Linked DNA regions of Homo sapiens: region 2 is linked to region 1. The links come from fine-mapping of genetic effects on gene expression. A gene starts in region 1. The other region holds a variant in brackets. All regions are shown on one strand. Distances are between the middles of the regions. Region 1 holds the start of SERPINI1 (serpin family I member 1). Region 2 overlaps WDR49 (WD repeat domain 49).

Region 1 (11,145 bases):
CAGAAGACCAACACTGAGCACTGTCAATGCCAAGTCTCAAAACTCATTCGTTCTTCATGATGGCTCAGAGATGACAAATACCTGTATAATTCAGGTACAATGTAAGCTTTACTAAGGTCTCTCAATGCAGCCTTTTCACTGAAAATGGAACATTTACAGCCAGTTAAACTTTAGTTAAGGCCTCATATTACATTCATCTATTTATTTTTCTCTATTTGTTAAGAAAAAAGTAATGGAAATCGTGTAGGGGAGGGGAGGTATTACATAAAAGCACATCTTTAAATCAGCAGAGTTCTAGAGGCAAGGAGAGAAAAGGACCACATAAACCCCAAATAGCATCTAATGAATAAATTCATGTCTGAAGCATGCGCCCATGCACGCACACACACACGCACACAAGCGCGCGCGCAAGTTTGCAGTTAATAACAAAATTTGTTCTACTCATTTAGAAATCCAACAAGATAGCAATATTTATATTTAGCTGTAATATAAGCAACCGTTGTTGGCAGAGGGCTGAATTTGGTACTAACACAGATGTCTAAGAAAAAGTCATTTTTCTAGTTGTATTTGTTTGCAAAATGATGTTTCATTATAGATTACCAAATAGTTATCCAAATTGTTACTACTTACCAAGTATGAACTATGTAAAAGGATTCTCAAAATGAATACAAACGTCAATGAAACTCAGAGTTAGCTCTAAAGATACTAAGTATCTGGTGAGAAAGATAGTATGAACTAAGTTTACTCTACACAAGGCACAGTGCTAATCATTAAGAATAATATCAGCAAGGCATGGTGGTTCACACCTGTAATCCCAATTCTTTGGGAGACCAAGGTGAGAGAATTGTTTGAGGTCAGGAGTTTGGACCAACCTGGGCAACACAGTGAGACCCTTATCTCTATAAAAAGTTAAAATTAGCTGAGCATGGTGGTTCTTGCCTGTAGTCTTAGCTACTGGGGAGTCTGCGGTGTGAGGAGTGCTTGAGCCCAGGAGTTCAAGGTTACAGTGAACTATGATCAGGTCACTGCATTCCAGCCTGGGCGACAGAGTCAGACCCTGTCTCAGAAAAAAAAAAAGGCGGCAAAAAAAAAAAGAAAAAGGCAGGTTAATTATCAGTTCTAAGCAAGCCAATTTATATAAATCAACATGAAGGTAAAAGTAAACAGAAGATAGTTAAATATGTGCTACAATTAATTTTACTACTAAAAAACTATATACAATTAACTAGAATTGTATAGGTCTTATCATAATGAAGTAAAAATTACATTAGATTCTTAATTCTAACACCAATCAGATTAATTTGTTTCTAGGTCAAATGCAAAAAACAACTAATGACCAACTCCACACATGCTTAAACAAAATCAGTCTATTTTTTTTTTGGAAGAAATAATTAGAAAAACAGAAGAGCAAATTCAGTTTTTATAGAATGAAATATGGTTTCTACAGATAAGCTTCAACAAAGGTATAACTCCAGGGCCTTGAGGTTAAATGGTGGTTGAGCCCTGGGTTTTTCTGTCTGTGAAATTAAGACCTTAAGTGCCACCAGTTGCAGACTCCTTTACCCTCGCCTATATATCCTATCTCTGAGATGAATTTAGAAATGCTGGCACTCAAATCTGTAATGTATTTGCAGCGCACACAGTGTGAATCCAATTGTGCTCAATCAACACTTTTGCAAAGGCAAACTAGCATAAAGACATTCTCAGAAGGACTAATGTGTAAGCAATCATTCTGTGAGGTCAGCTGACTCTGTCTATCAAAGCGCAAACTGTCTCAATGTGTGCATTACAGAAGTATTGTCCAATGTCCAATGGTTCTAATTCAGTAACTGGTTACTCAATTTCTTTATGCTGAATATGACATAAAGTGCTCAGGACTAACAGGAGATAGAAAAGAAGTACATGGTCTCTAAGAGTTAATAACGTAGTTACTTAAAACACACCTTCCAAATTTTAAAGACTAAATTCTTACAGGTTTAAGATTTAAAAAAAAAAAAAAAAAAGAAACAACAAAAAAATCTCTCCCTTATTTGTGTACGTTAATTCTGATCCCAAAAGCAGTGTTTAACCTTTGGAATTTGCTTAATTAAATAAATGGGCTCTTGCTCATCTTAGTGTCTGGTTCAAGTACCTTTATTATTTTAAAGGGGCAAAACATCAGTTTAGGTATTTACTTTTTGATATTTTGTCCAAATAATGTTTCACTTAGAAGTTAGTGTATACAGGTAGGATTTTTATGGTTAATAATCCATGAATATTCAAAATCTAATGAATACCAGTTTGATTCCAGTTAAAATGGCAATTGACTGGAATCAGACTGGTATTCATTAGATTTTGAATATTTATGGGTTATAAAAGCATAAAAAAGGAAGGTTAATCATCCAAAATTTATTCCAGTAAAAATTGCCATTTTAACTGGAATCAGACTGGTATTCATTGGATTTTGAATATTCAATTTTACTTAGAAAAGTAATGTATCCCAGTATGAATACAGGCCTCTACAAATTAATGACTGGGGGAGAAAAGGTCATGGAATCATGGATTATAGGAATTTAACAAAAAATATAAAATCTTTTTTCTCTTTTGCTAAAGGTGTGTTTCTCAAGTAGTTTTCTTTATATCTATTCCCCTGTATCCTTCTTTACCAAAACCATTTGATCTTGAACCTTTAAGTCTTGCTCTTTTGTGCTGCATGCATCAGTGAATCTTCCTGTTAAAAAGAAATCCATGCTAACTTATTTTTACTCAAAAGGCTTAGAATCAGAACTCTAAAGAAAAGACCAAAGGATATGGTAATTTGAAATTAACCAAGGTTTTTGGCTAAAGAACAATCATCCCCAGAGCAATTTCCATTCAAGAGAGACATTCTGCACTCTGTTGCTTTTCCTTTCTCATCATACATATTCACTGATAGCCATACACAAATAGTAAAATTAAAGAGCAAAATAAGTAATATGCTTATAACATGGGTAGCATTTTACACAGAATTATAAACTGCCATATAACGAACGTTTTCAACACCAATCAAGAAAAATCTTCAGATTACCTGAGATTGAATGTGAATATTAACTAACATGAATCAAGAGTGCAAGGTAAAAAATAAATGCCATATATTTCCAATGATATTCTCTCATATAAAAACATGGTCTTTTTTCAAATGATATTGAAACCCAATCTCTTTTACTGACACAGTAAAAAGGATCCAAATCTTGGAAACAGGTGAAAAAAATCAGTACTTTAATACCACAAACTCATTCATTCCTAATCAGATTCTATCCTTTACCGTGTCTCAGAGCAGAAGACCTATAAAGAGCTGAGATTCAAAGTATATCTTAATTTCAACTGTTTAGATATTTATCTTCTATCCATTTGCTTGCTTATTAACTGTTTCCCAATAAAACTCTTTCAAACAGATCTTTTAATAAAGGCTCGGAAAGAATTTCATTGGTAGTATTATAATTATTACATAGGGGAAATAACCCAGCGACAGCAATTATTCAGTTTTACAAAATGAATTAGTAGTAGGGTCTGAGAAAGAATCTAAGACTGATTCAAGACAATCCACTTAATCACAAATAACAAGGGCAAACACAGTCTTTTCCATGTGTCACCCTAATACCCACTTTTTTTTTTACCCCCAAAATCATTTTCACAGGGCCATATCAGCTATGTGAATTAATAGATTCTCCAGTGCTGTAGCAAAGATAAAACCTGATCCTTATAGTGGTTAAGTTTAGCAGCTACTGTTGCTTTTTCTTTCTTCTAAGCTCTTTGCTGTTTTTGATACTTAGCTGATTTGCTTAGGGGTAATTAAAAAGCAGCTGTTTTTCTATGATCTATCTGTCTATATATTTCTATGGTATGTGAGAGTGTGGGAGGGAAGAGTATACACACTGAAAAGTCACTTAGGCTTATCGGTAGTAGCACTCAGTAGGACTGAACTTTAATCTGGGAAGAGAATTCATTTGAGCCATTTCTTTTCAAAAAGAAATTTGGGATGCATTACAAAAATAAAATTTAAAATCCCGAGAACTCAGGAAAGCATAGAAATAGGAGAAAACAAGACAATTACTCCATTTTATTGACCCTGGTTATTAAAAAAAAACATAAAGTATTGAGACAGACTCTGAAATATGCAACTGTCACAATGAAAGCATTTCAGAGCAAAATTTGCTGCAATATGCTACTATGATTAAAAGCCATGTAATCTGGGAACCTCTGTAACAAAATGAAAATGAACTAGGAAAATAGCTTCTTACTACTTCTCTAAAAATAAAAGGCTGTAATTTTGTCATAATTACACAAAGGTAGGTGAGACTTTCATCTTTACCCAGCATTACAACTTATTTCCATCCATAGGTATTACAATTAACGTTGCTTTGAATGCACATATAGTTTAATACCGAGAATAAACTATTATTTTATGACACTACATGTGTTTTAAACTGAACCCACTATCATAACACATATTAAGGGTAGTCCTTCAGCACATACTCTCTACCCAGAGAAAAGATTCCCACACAGCTTTCCATGTACTCGTTTTTAAAATGTACACATATTATCGGACACAAATGAGAAACTAACGAGCAGCAGTGAGGTACACCATATGTTTCCATTGTAGGCTGAATCCAGGTCTTTGTTCCAATATTCCAGAGCCACTGGGAAGAAAGCTAACTATCCATTCATTAAAATTCATTTTTACATTATTGCTGGCAAAAGTTATACTTTTGATAGATTAAGTCAGAGCCCATCCTATCCTGACTATTCCTGCCTGCACTTGCTTCTTTAATACGGATTTCTTGCAATTCTAGGAAACTGCAAAATAACCACCCTGGATAACAGGTCGGTAGCAGGACAATCTGATAAACCAACGTAAAGGGTAGACACTGAAGAAGAATGCAAAGTTATTTTCCTAGTGAAATAGTTCAGAAGTTATTCTATATCAATAGCAAAATTTTTGCTTTTTATAGGCTACGCACCTATAACATCCACCAGATAACATCCACCTCGTCCTCAATTAGCAGGATTTTTCTCAATCTTCAGATCTCCCAGAACAGTTTTACTGGTGCAACTCAAACCAAAAACACTAACCACGCCCTTTATACCCAGAGTCAAGCTTCCTTTTGCTTTTTTGCCCTTAAAGTCGAAAAATGTAAATCTTTCACCCGAGAGGTTTTGCACCGGTTTCCTAACCCAACGCGGACTCTTTTAGCTGTGTCTTGATGTAATTCCTATTGGAAGACGTTTTCTCCAGGGCAGTGCAGACGCCCCGAAGAAGGACCCACGCTTACCTCCCACACACCTGCAACCCCTGACGGGATGCTGGAGCTTGTGCTCGGCGGACTGTGCTCCGCTCCGCTCTCGTTCCTGCTTTCGTCTCTCCCGGGAAACTACAGTCCAGACTGCGCCTCTGGCTTCTACAGGGACCCAAGCTCCGCCTCTCCCTCCTCTAGTTGGCGAATTTGGCAGCTGTTGCTCCTCCCCCTGCTGTTTCTGCAGCTGCCCGGACCGGAGGCAGCGGAAAGCAGCTGCCCTGGTACCTTTCCGCTCCCTGCACTTCTGCAGCTGCTCTGCCACTTCCACTCCCGTGGGGGTCCCTCTCCCCTCCTCTGTGGCTCACACCTGGAGCGGCCTCCTGCCCCACCCAGGCGTCTCTGCTGGGAGCCCCGGCTCAGCCTATCCTTCCCCGACCTGTGTGTCCGGATGCCCGGTGTGCCTGGGGCTTAGCTGCTCTCAGGGAAGCTGCCCCTCTGCCCAGTGCAAGTCCCCACACCAAGCCCTCCCTTCACCTGGGCGATTTCCCCGAGGCTTCCTCTCCACCCACACGGCATACTCAGCCCGACAGCCCCAGGATCCCCACCACAGGCCCCTCACCCCCTTCCTTCCTCTGCTCTGTCAGCCCGCCCCCTCAATGGGTGAGGCGCCTGCGGGGCCTACTCCGCACCCTGATTGGCGCAGGTGAGGGCTTGCCCCGCCCTTCCTCTCCTTTCCGTGCACCATCTCTCTTCATCTCACCTCCTCCCGCAAAGGCAGGGAATTCTCCTACTATTGGCTAGAAGTGTCACCACCCATCGCCTCAGGATCCCCCGCATGGCCTGCCGGGAAGTGTAGTCTTCCGATTGCAGGAATTGCGGACAACGCCGGCGAGCGGGACTACGAGTCCCCATAAGCCTCTGCACGACTCCGGCTGGGCAGGATTCCGGACAACGCCTGGTTCCTCTTGGGTCCTTCCGGCGTCGCCGGAGTGAATTGATCCGGGAGTTGAAGAGGGCTGCAAGGTGGGAAGTGAAGTCAGTGCCTCAGTTGCTGGTAAGGTGTAGCTGTTCTGTCCCAGTCCCCGTAGCTCTGCACCGAGCAGAAGAGGTCTAGGGTCACGCAGGGGCCATGGCTGAGGCACTTGGGCTTGGTTCTGGCAGGCGGAGCGGACGGGGCTGAGAGCGGGGCCCTACGGGCGTAAGCGAGGTTACCCTACGCGAGTGGCGTAAAGCGGGTTTGTAAATGCCGCCTGCCGGCTTGGGCCCGAACGCCTCCAGGAAGTCTCCTCTAGGTGGGGGCGGGAGGGGAAGGGCGAGGTTGGCCCCTGGTGCCCCGGGAGAGGGGACAGGGCGGATGTGCCTGGGGTGGGGTCCTTTGAAGGTGTGGCTTCGGACCGAGAGGTGAGGCTGCTGTTTTCCCCCTGCTTTGTAAGTAAGAGAAAAGGGAGGAGGAAGGAAAGGGTGCTTGGGAGTCGGCTCTTGGGGGTGACTCGGGTTATGCCCTTTGAGGGAAGAGGAGCACTGGAAGAAGGAAGAGACAAATGTTGGGGTCTACGGATTCAGTTCCAGTTTAATGATGTGGCCCTCTAAGGAGATAATTTTGCCTTAAACAGAAAGACTTGACCCTCTTAGGTGTCATACCTAAGGTATGTTTTTACTCCTTTACTGCTTTCAGAGCGCTTTCATTTTGGGATGCTGATGAGGAAACCGAGGGATTATATGACGTGCCCAAGGTCACACACGTAGGGACAGACTTTCTGAATCTAGTTCGGTTCGAGTCCAGCTTTAGAGTAGGGACGTTGGTTGTGCTTTTTGAAAAGGGTGGAGGAAGTTACAAAGTAAATGTATTTTATATAGTATATCTAAGAAGCCATTGTGAGATAAAAAGTTGTTTCTTGAACCGGAGTGAAATTCCTCAATAAAGGAAAGATCCTTTTGGAAAAAATAAAAATGGCCAGTTTCAACTTTTACAGATTTTTCCCCTTTTTTTAGGGGTGTATTAAATGATAGACTCTACTCTCACAGTTCATTTTTACGGGTAGGTAATAGGATGGGAGAACAACAGTTAAACAATATATCCCATCCTTAGAAGAATATTCTTTTCTTTTTCTACCTTAGGACTGTTTTTACTCTCATTTTGTAAAACTGATAATAGTGGGATTGGAATTCTTTCACAAAACTACACTTTTTTCAAATAATGTAGCGTTAGGAGAGTTTAGTGTGCCCATTACTAGAAAAGAAGGTATTTTGCATTTCTTGGAGGTAACATCGTCTTTTTTGAGACTTTACTTTTCCCCCATTTTCTTGACTCTGGGCTGTATTTGTGTGTGTGTCTGCAAATAATAAAATTGGGCTCTTGCATATTTTTATTTTTCTTAGCATCAACTGTGACTTTCAATTCATTCTTACTTTACATTGAAGAATGAAAAAACAGTACACGTATAGTTCATATCTTGCAGAAAGTAGTGCCTTTATGCAAGTCTTATCCTCTATAATGATTATGACCAGTTATAGCTCATGACTATTATTATTGGATAAGTTTTTAATAGAATTGTTAGAGTATGTTCATTGATGGCAGAATTTATTTGTGATAACTTTATATCCATACAGGTTAGCATGTAATAAATCATGGCTTACTCTTAACATGTAATAAATCATAGCTTACTGTTTTATATATAAGTTGATCATCAGACTATGCTGAATTTTGAATGTACTCTGCAGTTACTATATTATCAACAATGTGCTTCACTTTTTAATGGAAAAACATTTTTTCGGAACAGAGGTATTATCTTCCCTGATGGTTGAAATTAAGATGGTCTGGAAATTAATACGATTTTTAAAATAGAAAAAGTATGATACTATAGAATGAAGTAAAATCAGGAATAATGTACCATAAGTAATGTAGTACACAGACAAGGAAGACCCAGTTAAACAAATGGAAAATTATGTGGTGATAACTGACTTTGTGCTGGATTAAGAAAGGTGCAGTGATGTAAGTAGACCGTAAACTGAACATGAGTCAGTGATGGTAAAGCAAGAATATTAATCTGTTTTCTAGATGACAATGTAGGTATTTGCCTTTTGTTGAAGGAGGTATGAAATAAGTTCTAACCTTTGGCATGTAACTCTGTCATTATGGAAAGAGCTTTTGAACTATGAGGAAATTTTGGAAATTAGTTAATGTAATGCATTTGTTCAGTGTGTTTTAGATTTTGTTCTTGGTTCATTTCTGCCACTACTCTTTATCTCTGAGGCCAATTATAGTTTTGATATTTCTTCTATTCGGATGGTGGATTAATGTTTGTATTGTTGTTATCATCTTTCAGTCACATGCTGCGGTACTGTTGTCACTTTAGATCTCTGCACGTTGGATAATTAGGAGTTCACAGAGTTATGTGTACACGTGGTTTGCAGCTCACCAGTGTCTGCATTTCTTCTCATTTTGAACTTTGCAGGAGCCTTATGTCAGCTTTTGGACATTATTTCTTAGAGGACTTGGGATGTCTTCCGTATATTATACATCTGTCTGTTTCTCTTAAGGATGTAAGGTCTGTAAGAATAGGGGCTGTTTATTATTGTAGTCTGAGTAGGTAAGATAATATTTACAAAGAGAATGAAGAGGCTCAAGTTGGTTAAGTGACTTGTAACTGGTGGGAGTAAGACAAAATCGAGATCTTCTGACTACAGATCTTTAATATTTTGGAGTAAAGACTTAGTTCCCTTAGATTATTTACATGAGAAGAAGACTTAACGTGACTTAAATATTCAAATACTATTACCTTCTTACTCTGTTTAACACTAAAAATTTATCTCTTCTCCTATCCAGCTCTCCGTCCTTATCTCCAGCCTTTCTCATTTACCATGCCTTTCAGTTACTACATACATAAGCTGCTTCCTGACTTGGTGGCCTTTACATATTCCGTCTCACTCCTTGGACTGTTCCCCTCACGCCTACCTAAATGTGGCCACCTGGTAGTCAGTTTTCACGTCTCAATTTAAATATCGTTCGTCAGGGGAGCCTTGCCCGCCTTCCCAAAATCAGAATAGGTTTCCGCCATGTATTCACCATACTCTGTACTCCTTTGTGGCATCATCATAATAGAAACTTAATTATTTCTGTATTTATTTGACAAATACTGTCTCCTCACTGGACTATAAGCTCCCTGAGCAGGGCCCTCTCATTTGTCATGTTTTACCCCACTACTTACGCAGTACCTGGCACATTGTAAGGGTTCAGTAAATATTTGCTGAATGAATGAAGGAGTGTATTCATGCACAGTGCTTCCAGCACTTCTCTGGGGACAGAAATAGAGAAATGAATAAAGCGGATATGCTTTCTGGATTGAAGTATATAAGAACTTTCAAATGAGCCATAATGCTTAGGCAATTTAGGTTATATGTAAAGGAGTCATTGACAGAATTTTAATATAAATTGTGGAAAAATGTTTGTTCTTTTTGGAGGTCTCTGAAATCAGGATTAATTTTCTAAGTGGAAATGATAAAGGAATCACTTTCATTTGCCGCAGAATTGCTGTGTAACACAGCATTTTAGAGACTTATCACTGTCCTGCTTTTTGCAAGCGATATTCATTATAACAAAATATAGACATGGAAGAAACTTCTAATGGACTCTTCTTCCCTAATGTTGTCTCGTTTTGCCCTAAAAACCTTTATTTCCTCTAGGTAGTAGTATTAATACTGTTTTATAGCTGAAGACATCAAGAAAATAAGTAAATTTACTTATTAAACTAAAAAAAGTTTAATTAAATTGCTAGAGTTTCCAGAACGTTGGTACTGGAACCATGGTTAGAATCTGGATCTATCTCCGTATTCTAGAATCCATAATTTTTTCTTTTTCTTTGCTTTTTTGTTTTGTTTCTTGCTTTTTAACCTTGCTATCTTCCTATGAATTATACCTTTAATATCACTTGATTTAGACAAGGTGGCTTTGTAAAATTGAGTAGTTTTTGTTTCAAAGGAACTTATATTTTGGGTTTCCTGAAAATTTTTCTAATACTTTTCTAATCTTATTTGCTTTATAGCTGGAGACTTAAGCATAAAAAGATTATTTTTAAAACATACAAACTGAATTTTAGGGATAAATTGTGTTAGGTTTTGGTCTTGGAAACAAGTTCTGCAGTCATTTGTAGTACCACGGTATGGCATAGAGTAAGGTCAACAGCCCTGAGTTTCTGTAGCCTTGTATGCCTTCATGGATTTACCAGTTTACTCTTCCACAAGATCTTGTCAAAAAGAGATTGCTGATAATTTGGCTTTAAAATTTGGTAATACTATCCATTTTATTATTAAAAACAAGTCTTTGCTAAATCCTAAACTTACTTTTTAAAAAGTCAGTGTTGATGTTACTTGAATCTTGGATAAAATTTTCATATTTACCTAGCATAACCAGTATGTGGAGGATAAAACTGAAATACTGCTTTTTATATGTTGTTGGATAATTAATATCATTATGATAGGTGTTACTAAGAATTTTAAGCCACTTACATGATAAGTAATTTTTTCCATAATATAAACTGTAAAAGTGATTTAGAAGTTAAATGTCATTGTTATCTATGTTATTGCATTTGAAATATTATAGTAAGCTGCAGTGTTAGAGGGTTATGCTTTAGGGACACACACACACACACAATGCAAAAAATGAAAGCACATTTATTATAGCAATTAGAAATAATTTATGTGCTGAAAGATAAACACTGTGGTTTGATGGTTCATTTTTGTCTGTATGAAGATGGTAATTTCAATTTTGTCATTTAAGCTACAAAATTTAAATGTGTCTTAAGTGTATTATATTACACTTATTTTTCAAGCTCACCCTTACATTTTTGGTTATGTATAACCATTTTTAAAATCACCCAAAAGTGATTTTCTG
Region 2 (11,145 bases), 140 kb after region 1:
TTGGGTTGGTTCCAAGTCTTTGCTATTGTGAATAATGCCACAGTAAACATACGTGTGCATGTGTCTTTATAGCAGCATGATTTATAGTCCTTTGGGTATATACCCAGTAATGGGATGGCTGGGTCAAATGGTATTTCTAGTTCTAGATCCCTGAGGAATCGCCACACTGACTTCCACAATGGTTGAACTAGTTTACAGTCCCACCAACAGTGTAAAAGCGTTCCTATTTCTCCACATCCTCTCCAGCACCTGTTGTTTCCTGACATTTTAATGATTGCCATTCTAACTGGTGTGAGATGGTATCTCACTGTGGTTTTGATTTGCATTTCTCTGATGGCCAGTGATGGTGAGCATTTTTTCATGTGTTTTTTGGCTGCATAAATGTCTTCTTTTGAGAAGTGTCTGTTCATGTCCTTCGCCCACTTTTTGATGGGGTTGTTTGTTTTTTTCTTGTAAATTTGTTTGAGTTCATTGTAGATTCTGGATATTAGCCCTTTGTCAGATGAGTAGGTTGCGAAAATTTTCTCCCATTTTGTAGGTTGCCTGTTCACTCTGATGGTAGTTTCTTTTGCTGTGCAGAAGCTCTTTAGTTTAATTAGATCCCATTTGTCAATCTTGGCTTTTGTTGCCATTGCTTTTGGTGTTTTAGACATGAAGTCCTTGCCCATGCCTATGTCCTGAATGGTAATGCCTAGGTTTTCTTCTAGGGTTTTTATGGTTTTAGGTCTGACGTTTAAGTCTTTAATCCATCTTGAATTGATTTTTGTATAAGGTGTAAGGAAGGGATCCAGTTTCAGCTTTCTACATATGGCTAGCCAATTTCCCCAGCACCATTTATTAAATAGGGAATCCTTTCCCCATTGCTTGTTTTTCTCAGGTTTGTCAAAGATCAGATAGTTGTAGATATGCAATGTTATTTCTGAGGGCTTTGTTCTGTTCCATTGATCTATATCTCTGTTTTGGTACCAGTACCATGTTGTTTTGGTTACTGTAGCCTTGTAGTATAGTTTGAAGTCAGGTAGTGTGATGCCTCCAGATTTGTTCTTTTGGCTTAGGACTGACTTGGCAATGCGGGCTCTTTTTTGGTTCCATATGAACTTTAAAGTAGTTTTTTCCAATTCTGTGAGGAAAGTCATTGGTAGCTTGATGGGGATGGCATTGAATCTGTAAATTATCTTGGGCAGTATGGCCATTTTCACGATATTGATTCTTCCTACCCATGAGCGTGGAATATTCTTCCATTTGTTTGTATCCTCTTTTATTTTGTTGAGCAGTGGTTTGTAGTTCTCCTTGAAGAGGTCCTTCACATCCCTTGTAAGTTAGATTCCTAAGTATTTTATTCTCTTTGAAGCAATTGTGAATGGGAGTTCACTCATGATTTGGCTCTCTGTTTGTCTGTTGTTGGTGTATAAGAATGCTTGTGATTTTTGTACATTGATTTTGTATCCTGAGACTTTGCTGAAGTTGCTTATCAGCTTAAGGAGATTTTGGGCTGAGACAATGGGGTTTTCTAGATATACAATCATGTCGTCTGCAAAGAGGGACAATTTGACTTCCTCTTTTCCTAATTGAATACCCTTTATTTCCTTCTCCTGCCTAATTGCCCTGGCCAGAACTTCCAACACTATGTTGAATAGGAGTGGTGAGAGAGGGCATCCCTGTCTTGTGCCAGTTTTCAAAGGGAATGCTTCCAGTTTTTGCCCATTCAGTATGATATTGGCTGTGGGTTTGTCATAGATAGCTCTTATTATTTTGAGATATGTCCCATCAATACCTACTTTATTGAGAGTTTTTAGCATGAAGGGTTGTTGAATTTTGTCAAAGGCCGGGTTTTGCTTTTCTACCACATGATTAGGTTGCAAATTTTCCAAACTTTTATGTTCTGCTTCCCTTTAAACATAATTTCCAACTTCAGACTATCTCTTTGGAATGAATATGACTGTATGCTTTCAGAAAAAGCCAGGTCACATCTTGAATGCTTTACTGCTTTGAAATGTCTTCTGCCAGATACCCTAAATCATCTCTCTCAAGTTCAAATTTCTACAGGTATCTAGGGCAGGGGCAAAATGCCACCAGTGTCTTTGGTAAAGAATAGGAAGTTTGACCTTTGCTCCGGTTCCCAGTAAGGTCCTCATCTCCATCTGAGACCACCTCAGCATGAACTTCATTGCCCATATCACTATGAACATTTTGGTCAAAACAATTTGACAAGTCTCTAAGAAGTCCCAAATGTTTCCACATTCTCCTGTCTTCTTATGAGCCCTTCAAACTTTTCCAACTTTTGCCCGTTACCCAGTTCCAATGTTGCTTCCACATTTCCAGGTATCTTTATAGCAGCACTCCACTTTCCCAGTGCCAATTTTCTGTATTAGTTTGTTCTCACATGGCTATAAGGAAGTACCTGAGACTGGGTAACTTATAAAGGAAAGAGGTTTCATTGGCTCATAGTTGCTCATGGCTGGGGAGACTTCAGGAAACTAAAATCATGGAAGAAGGTGAAGGGGAAGCAAGGCACATCTTACATGGTAGCAGGAGAGGCAGAACGAGAGAGGGGAACCACCGCACACTTTTAAACCATCAGATCTTGTGACAATTCCCTCACTATCATGAGAACAGCATGGGGGAACCTCCCCCATGATCCAGTCACCTACAACTAGGTCCTTCCCTCAGCACATGGGGATTACAATTTGAGATGAGATTTGGGTGGGAACACAGAGCCAACCATATCAGATAGCTACCAATAAGCCAAGACAGTGAAGACTACAATAAACACCTAACTCTTCAATGCCCAGACACCAAAGAACAGCTACTAACACCAACACCATCCAGGAAAACATGACCTCACTAAATGAACTAAATAAGGCACAATAACACATCCTGGAGAAACAGAGATATGTGACCATTCAGATGGAGAATTCAAAATAGCTGTGTTGAGAAAACTCAAAGATATTCAAGATAACACAGAGAAGGAATTCAGAATTCTATCAGATAAATTTAACAAAGACATTAACATTGTTAAAAAAATCAAGCAGAAATTCTAAAGTTGAAAAATGGAATTGACAAACTGAAGAATGTGTCAGTGTTTTAATAGCAGAATCAATCAAGCAGAAGAAGGAATTAGTGAGCTTGAAGACAGGATATTTAGAAATGCAGTCAGAGGAGGCAAAAGAAAAAAGAATGAAAATGAATGAAGCACACCTTCAAGATCTAGAAAACAGTCTCAACAAGGCAAATCTAAGAGTTATTGGACTTAAAGAGGAAGTTGAGAGAGAAACAAGGTAGAAAGTTTATTCAAAGGGATAATAACAGAGAACTTCCTAAACCTAGCGAAACATATCAATGTCCAAATACAAGAAGGCTATAGAACACCAAGCTGATTTCACCCAAAGAATACTAACTTGAGACATTTAATAATCAAACTCCCAAAGGTCAAGGATAAAGAAAGAATCCTAAGGGCAGTAAGAGAAAAGAAACAAATAACATAAAATAGAGCTTCAATATGTCTGGCAGCAAAATTTTCAGGGAAATCTTACAGGCCAGGAGAGAATAGCATATTTAAAGTTCTGAAGGAAAATAACTATATCTTGCAAAAATATCCTTCAAACATGGAGAAATAAAGACCTTACCAGACAAACAAAAGCTGAAGGATTTCATCAATACCAGACCTTCCTACAAGAAGTGCTAGAGGGAGTTCTTCAATCTGAAAGAAAGGAATGTTAATTAGCAATAAGAAATCATCTGGCTAGGAGCAGTCGCTCATGCCTGTAATCCCAGCACTTTGGGAGACTGACGTGGGAGGATCGTGAGGGCAAAAGATGGAGACCGTCCTGCCCAACATGGTGAAACCCCATCTCTACTAAAAATACAAAAATTAGCTGGGCGTGGTGGTGTGCACCTGTAGTCCCAGCTACTCAGGAAGCTGAGGCAGGAGAATCTCTTGAACCCAGGAGGTAGAGGTTTCAGTGAGCTGAGATGGTGCTATTGCACTCCAGCTTGGCGACAGAGTGAGACTCCATCTCAAAAAAAAAAAAAAAAGAAAAAGAAAAAGAAATCATCTAACGGTACAAAACTCAGTGGTAATAGTAAGTACACAAAAAAACCACAGAATATAACCCTGTAACTGTGCTGTGTAAGCTATTGTTATCTGAAGTAGAAAGATTAAATGATGAACTAATCAAAAATAACTACAATAACTTTTCAAGACATAGACAGTACAATAAGATATAAATAGAAACAACAGAAAGTTAAAAAGTTAAGGAGCATGAAGTTAAGGTATAGGGTCTTTATTAGTTTTCTTTTTGCTTGTTGGTTTGTTTATACGAATAGTGTTAAGTTGCTATCAGTTTAAAATAACGGATTATAAGATAGTATTTTCAAGCCTCATGGTAACCTCAAACTAAAAAACATACAAGGAATGAACAAAAAATACAAAGCAAGAAACTAAATCATATGACCAGTGACAATCACCTTTACTATAAGGAAGACAGGAAGGAAAGAAAGAAGGAAGAGAAGACCAGAAGACAACCAGAAAACAAATAACAAAATGGCAGAAGTAAGTCTTTACTTGTCAATAATAGCATTGAATGTTAATGGACTAAACTCTCCAATCAAACGACATAGCAGAGTGATTGGATAAAAAAAAACAAGACCCAATTATCTATTGCCTACAAGAAAGACACTTAACCTATAAAGACACACACTGACTGAAAATAAAGGAAGGAAAAATGATATTCCATGCCAGAATGGAAGAACAGGAGTCCCTATATTCATATCAGACAAAATAGATTTCAGGCCAAACCTATAAGGGACAAAGAAATCATTATATAATGATAAATGAATTAGTTCAGCAAGAGAATATAACAATTGTAAATATATGTGTACCCAAAACGGGAGCACCCAGATATATAAAGCAAATTTTATTAGACTTAAATAGAGAGATAGACCACAATACAACAATAGCTGGAGACATCAACACCTGTTTTTCAGCATTGAGAAGATCTTCCAGACAGAAAATCAACAAAGAAACATCAGACTTTGCACTATAGAAGAAATGGACCTAATAGATATTTATAGAACATTTCATCCAACTGCTGAAGAATACAAAATCTTTTTCTGACTACATGAATCATTCTCAGAGATAGACCATATGTTAGGTCATGAAACAAGTCTTAAAACATTCAAAAAATTTAAATAATATCAAGCATCTTCTCTAATCACAAGGTACTAAAACTAGACATCAATAACAAGAGTAATTTTGAAAATTGTACAAATACATGGAAATTAAACAATATTCTCCTGAATGACCAGTGTGTCAATAAAGAAACTGAGAAGGAAATTGAAAAATTACTTGAAACAAATGACAATGGAAACATGGCATACCAAAACCTATGGGATACAGTAAGAGGAGTACTAAAAGAGAAGTTTACAGCTGTCATCAAAAAAGAGAAAAAACTTCAAATAAACAACCTAATGGTGCCTCTTAAAGAATTCAAAAAACAAACCAAACCCCAAATCTGTAGAAGAAAAAATAAAGATCAGAGCAGAGATAAATGAAGTTGAAATGAAGAAAGAATACAAAGATCAATGAAATGAAAAGTTGGTTTTGGAAAAGATAAACAAAATTGACAAAACTTTAGCCAGACTAACTTAGCCAGACTAACTTTCTAGCCAGAAAAAAAAGAGAGAAAACCCAAATAAAATATAAAAGTACAGATGAAAAAGGATATATTATTACTGACACCACTGAAATTCAAATGATTATTAATGGCTACTATGAGCCACTATATGTTAATAACTTGACAAATCTGGAAGAAATGGATAAATTCCTAGACATATACGAACTACCAAGATTGAACCATAAAAATTTTCAAAACCTGAACAGACTAATAACAAGTAATGAGACTGAAGCCATAGTTAAAAGCCTCTCAACAACAAAAAGCCCAGGACCCAAGGGCTTTGCTGCTGAATTTTACCAAACATTAAAAGAAGAACTGGTACCAATCCTACTCAAACTACTCCACAAAGTAAAGGAGGAAGGAATACTTCCAAACTCATTCTACAAAACCATTATTACCCTGATACCGAAACCAGACACAGACACATCAGAAAAGAAAACCACAGGCAGATAGCCCTCATAAACATTGATGCAAAAATCCTCAACAAAATACTACCAATTCAAATTCAACAACACATTTAAAAAATCATTCATTATGACCAAGTGGGATTTATCCCAAGGTTGCAAGAATGGTTCCACATATGCAAATCAATCAATTTGATACATGATGTCAA[T/C]GGAATGAAGGACAAAAACTAAATAATCGTTCCAATTGATTCTGAAAAAGCATTTGATAAAATTCCACATCTCTTCATGATTTAAAAAACTCAAAAAGTTTTGATATAGAAGAAACATAACTCAATATAATAAAAGCCATATATAAAAGACCAACAGCTAATATCGTATTGAAATGGGAGAAAGTTGAAAGCCTCCCATCTAAGATCTGAAGAATGCCCACTATGTTATTCAATATAGTACTGTAAGTCCTAGCTAGAATAATCAGACAAGAGAAATATAAAAAGGGCATCCAAATTGGAAATGAAGAAAGCACATTATCCTTATTTGCAGATAATAACATCTTGTATTTGGAAAAACCACTCCACCAAAGAACATTAGAATGGTAAGCAAATTCAGTAAAGTAGCAGGATACAAAATCAACATAATCAGTTGCATTTCTATATGCCAACAACAATCTGAAAATCAAGAAAATAATCCCGTTTAGAATAGCTACAAATAAAATTAAATATCTAGGAATAAACTTAACCAAAAGAGTGAAGGATTTGTATGATGAAAAGTATAAAACATTAATGCAAGACATTGAAGAAGCTACAAAAATGGAAAGATATTCCATGTTCATGGTCTGGAAGAATAAATATTGTTAAAATGTCCATATTACCAAAAGCAATATACAGATTTAATGCAATCCCTATCAAAATACCAATGACATTCTTCATAGAAATAGGAAAAACAATCCTAAAATTTATGTGGAATCACAGAAGACCCAGAATAGCCAAGGCTATCCTAAGCAAACAGAATAAAAGTGAAGGAATCACACTAACTGACTTCAAATTATACTATGGAGCTACAGTAACCAAAACGTCATGACACTGGCATAAAAACAAACACATAGACCAGTGGAATAGAATGGAGAATCCAGAAATAAATCCATACATCTACAGTGAATTCATTTTAGACAGTGGTGCCAAGAACATATATTGAGGAAAAGACAGTTTCTTCAATAAATGGTGCTGGGTAAATTGAATATCTATATGCAGAAGATAATATTAGACACCTAAATCTTGTCATATACAAAAATTAAATCCAAATTGATTATAGATTTAAATCTAATACCTCAAACTATGAATCTGCTAAATAAAAACATTGGAGAAACTGTCCAGAATATTGGACTAGGCAAAAATTTCTTGAGCAATACCCCACAAGCACAGGCAACTGAAGAAAAAATGGATGAGTGGGATCACATTAAGTTAAAATGCTTCTGCGCAGCAAAGTATACAATCAATAAAGTGAAGAAACAACCCACAGAACGGGAGAAAATATTTACAAACTATCCATCTGACAAGGGATTAATAACCAGAATATACAAGGAGCTCAAACAATTCTAGGAAAAAAAATCTAACAATCTGATTAAAAATGGGCTAAATACCTGAACAGACATTTCTCAAAAAAAGACAAATGGCAAACAGGCATATGAAAAGGTGCTCGATATTATTTATTATCAGAGAAATGCAAATCAAAATTACAATGAGATATCAAATTTACAATGTTACCCCAGTTAAAAATGGCTTATATCCAAAAGACAAGCAATAACAAATGCTGGTGAGGATGTGGATAAAAGGGTATTCTCATGCATTGTTGGTAGGAATGTAAATTGGTAAAACCACTGTAATAGAGCTAAAAATTGAGCTGCCGTATGATCCAGCATTCCCACTACTAGGTATATACCCCAAAGAAAAGAAATCAGTATATCGTATAGATATCTGCACTTCCATGTTTGTTGCAGCACTGTTAACAATAGCCAAGATTAGGAAGCAACCCAAGTGTCCATCAAAAGATAAATGGATTAAGAAAATGTGGTATTTACAAACAGTAGAGTACTACTCAGTCATAAAAAAGAGTAAGATCCTGTCACTTGCAATAACATGGTTGGAACTGGAGGTCATTATGCTGAGTGAAATAAGCCAGTTAGAGAAAGACAAACTTTAGGTGTTCTCACTTATTTGTGGGAGCTAAAAATTAAAACAATTGAACTGATGGAGATAGAAGAAGAATGGTTATTAGAGGCTGGGAAGGGTAGTGGTGGGGGAGGTTGGAGAGGAAGTGGGTATGGTTAATGGGTATAAAAAATAGAAAGAATTAAGAGGACCTAGTATTTGCTAGCACAACAGAGTGACTATAGTAAAAAATAGTTTAATTGTACATTTACAATATCTAACATAATATAATTGGATTGCTTGTAACACACAGGATAAATGCTTGAGGTGATAGCTACTCCATTTACCCTGATGTGATTATTACGCAATGTATATCTGTATCAGAATATCTCATGTAATCAATAAATATATACACCTACTCTGTACCCACCAAAATAAAAAAATTAATTAGAAAAAATGAAAAAGAGGGCTCGTGTGGTGCCTCACGCTTGTAATACCAACACTTTGGGAAGCTGAGGTGGGTGGATCACTTAAGCCCAGGAGTTCAAGATCAGCCTAGGCAACATGGAAAAACCCATCTCTACAAAAAATACAAAAATTAGTGGGCATGGTGGCGCACACCTGTAGTCCCAGCTACCCGAAAGGCTGAGGTAGGGCAATCATCTAAGCCTGGTAGGCTGAGGCTGCAGTGAGGCGTGATCATGCCATTGCACTCCAGCCTGGGTGACAGAGAGGGACCCTGTCTCAAAAAAGAAAAAGTGAAAAAAAAGGTCAGTGTCTTTTCAGCTTGTATTCTTGGTATTTATCACAGTGCTTGGCACCTTGTAGTGCTTATTCAATAGTTATATGTTGACAGCTTGAAGTGAAGACATATTACTTTGAGTCTAAAGTATCAAAAAACTTGAGTGAAACCTTTTATGATGCCCTAGTTAGATTTAGCTGGCCTACTTTTTGAGATCTTTTAGCACTTTGTTTCATTTCCATTATTGAATTTAACACAATCTGATTTGGATACCGGAGCATTGTATATGTATATTGTATTTTTCATTAGATTCTGACTGCTTGAAGGTAAAGATTATTTGTTGAATTTATTTTTGTGTTTCCCAAGACCTAGAAAATATTAATGTATTAAATACATGTTAAATATAATATATGAAACAGTATAACTATCAACTAAATGATAGGATTCATAAGGTTAGGGGCAATGTCTTTCTGGAATTATACCATATATATACCAGGTCCCCAATAAATTGTAGTTAAATAAGAGAATCTTTATCAAATATAAATATGAAACAAGTATCAGATATTTTGTCATTAAGACTTCCCCGAGAGGTTTTATAACGTAAAAGCAAGTGAAAAAATGTCTTTAGAGTCACAGGTGATTATGTACAGCTATCATCAATGCTAAGACTACCTGGCCTCTTCCAAAAACAATTTATCTTTCTATTTTTGTTTTGTTTGCATTACATTATAATGAAGCTTGTCATGTTGTCTTTCATGTTAGTCTAAATCTATTTCACTTTAATAAATGCATCGTGATCTCAGTCTTTACGTCTTTACAACAAACAACAATGCATTCTGCCACCAGGGTAAGCCTCTGCTTTATTGCTGTCAAAGTCTTTTGGATATTTTATAGGACTGGGGTTAAGTTAGAAAAAATGAAAACACATTATGTTTTCAAGAGCTTTTGATTGAAACATGTTTTGGTCAATGAATTGCTGAATTAGAAGATCTATAGACAAAGCAATTTAAATCTACAAAATTTTCTCCAAAAATGATCTGAAACTTCATTTCGTTTTTGGAAATCTTCTCTATTGCTATTTTCCAGTGGTGATTAAAGAGTTCAATCGTATTTTGCTTTGAACTCCTAAACTGATTCTCTTGAGATGGCAGTCACTGGTGGTAAGGCCCTGTTGAGGGCAAGTAACTTAGTCATTTGGAGAGGAACCACCATGGGGAGTAAAAAAGATTTTTGAAGCCTATGTCAAACTCTCTGATGGAGACTGACATTCAGCCTGTGGGCCTAATTCAGCTTTTTCATTACTCCTAACTATTCTCCCCGAGGCCACTAATCCTGATTTGGTCAGCAGAAGCAAATCAGTTTGTGGCTTAATCCTTTGTTTGAGGTTCTGATTTTTCTCAGAACCTGGCTTCTATATTGTAGACCTATGGTTGGTAAGAACAATACAATCAGAATTTTGTCTTACCATTTATCTTCTTTTCTTTTTTTCCACACTGTTCCCCATCCCGACTTCCATCTATCCATCCAGAAACAAAGGATTTTCATTTAAAGTACGCCGGTAAATGGATTAATGCCCTCCTATAAAAATTGCAAATGATGAGGAAGCATGTAGTGCAAAAAGTAAATATTCCTTATGATCATTTCCCCTTCAAATCCATTTCTTTCCCAAGGAATAACTATCATCAACCCTAGACGTGTATCTTCTTATATTGTTTTGCTATATACTTACTATGTTATACATAATAATGTATTATAATAATATGTCATTATAACAAAATACAACTTTATTTAATGTTATTATATATATTATCCTTTGAGTGTGAACAAATACAGGGTAGTATTTATTATTAGTTTTTATGTAAATGGTATCATATGACACATATTTTTTCTACAATTTGCTTTTTCCTAAACAGTATCTCTTGAAGATCTTTATAGATAGACACATAGATATACATATATCTGTATTTTTTGGCTATACAGCAATTCTTAGTATGGATGGCCATAATTTAACTACTTAATCACCTGTTGATTAAAGGAGATATTGTTTCTAAGTTGTTTATCTTTGTTAGCCATGACACACACACACACACACACACACACACACACACACACACACGCACCCTTTTAAGACCTCTTAGGTTAATGTTTTTGTAATAAGTTTCTAGAAGTTATGCTATTAG

The links. PIP is the estimated chance that this variant, and not a neighbour inherited with it, causes the effect. A credible set is the group of variants that fine-mapping cannot tell apart.
Region 2: its variant is the best candidate, but not a certain one, in a credible set for the expression of SERPINI1 in lung (TOPMed, PIP 0.53).

Annotation. Positions count from the first base shown.
Region 1 is chr3:167,729,970-167,741,114 of GRCh38, reverse strand. SERPINI1 (serpin family I member 1) reads right to left here and starts at 5,394. Exons shown (of 9, transcript NM_001122752.2): 1 at 5,292-5,394. PDCD10 (programmed cell death 10) reads left to right here and starts at 6,223. Exons shown (of 9, transcript NM_007217.4): 1 at 6,223-6,453; 2 at 6,765-6,901. RefSeq lists an enhancer at 5,972-6,411 and a silencer at 6,462-6,591.
Region 2 is chr3:167,585,328-167,596,472 of GRCh38, reverse strand. The region is part of intron 7 of WDR49 (WD repeat domain 49); the gene reads left to right. Among named protein-coding and RNA genes, the nearest start is that of WDR49, 63 kb to the left of the region's middle. RefSeq lists an enhancer at 2,575-2,744. The variant T/C (reference allele first, on the strand shown) is at 6,289.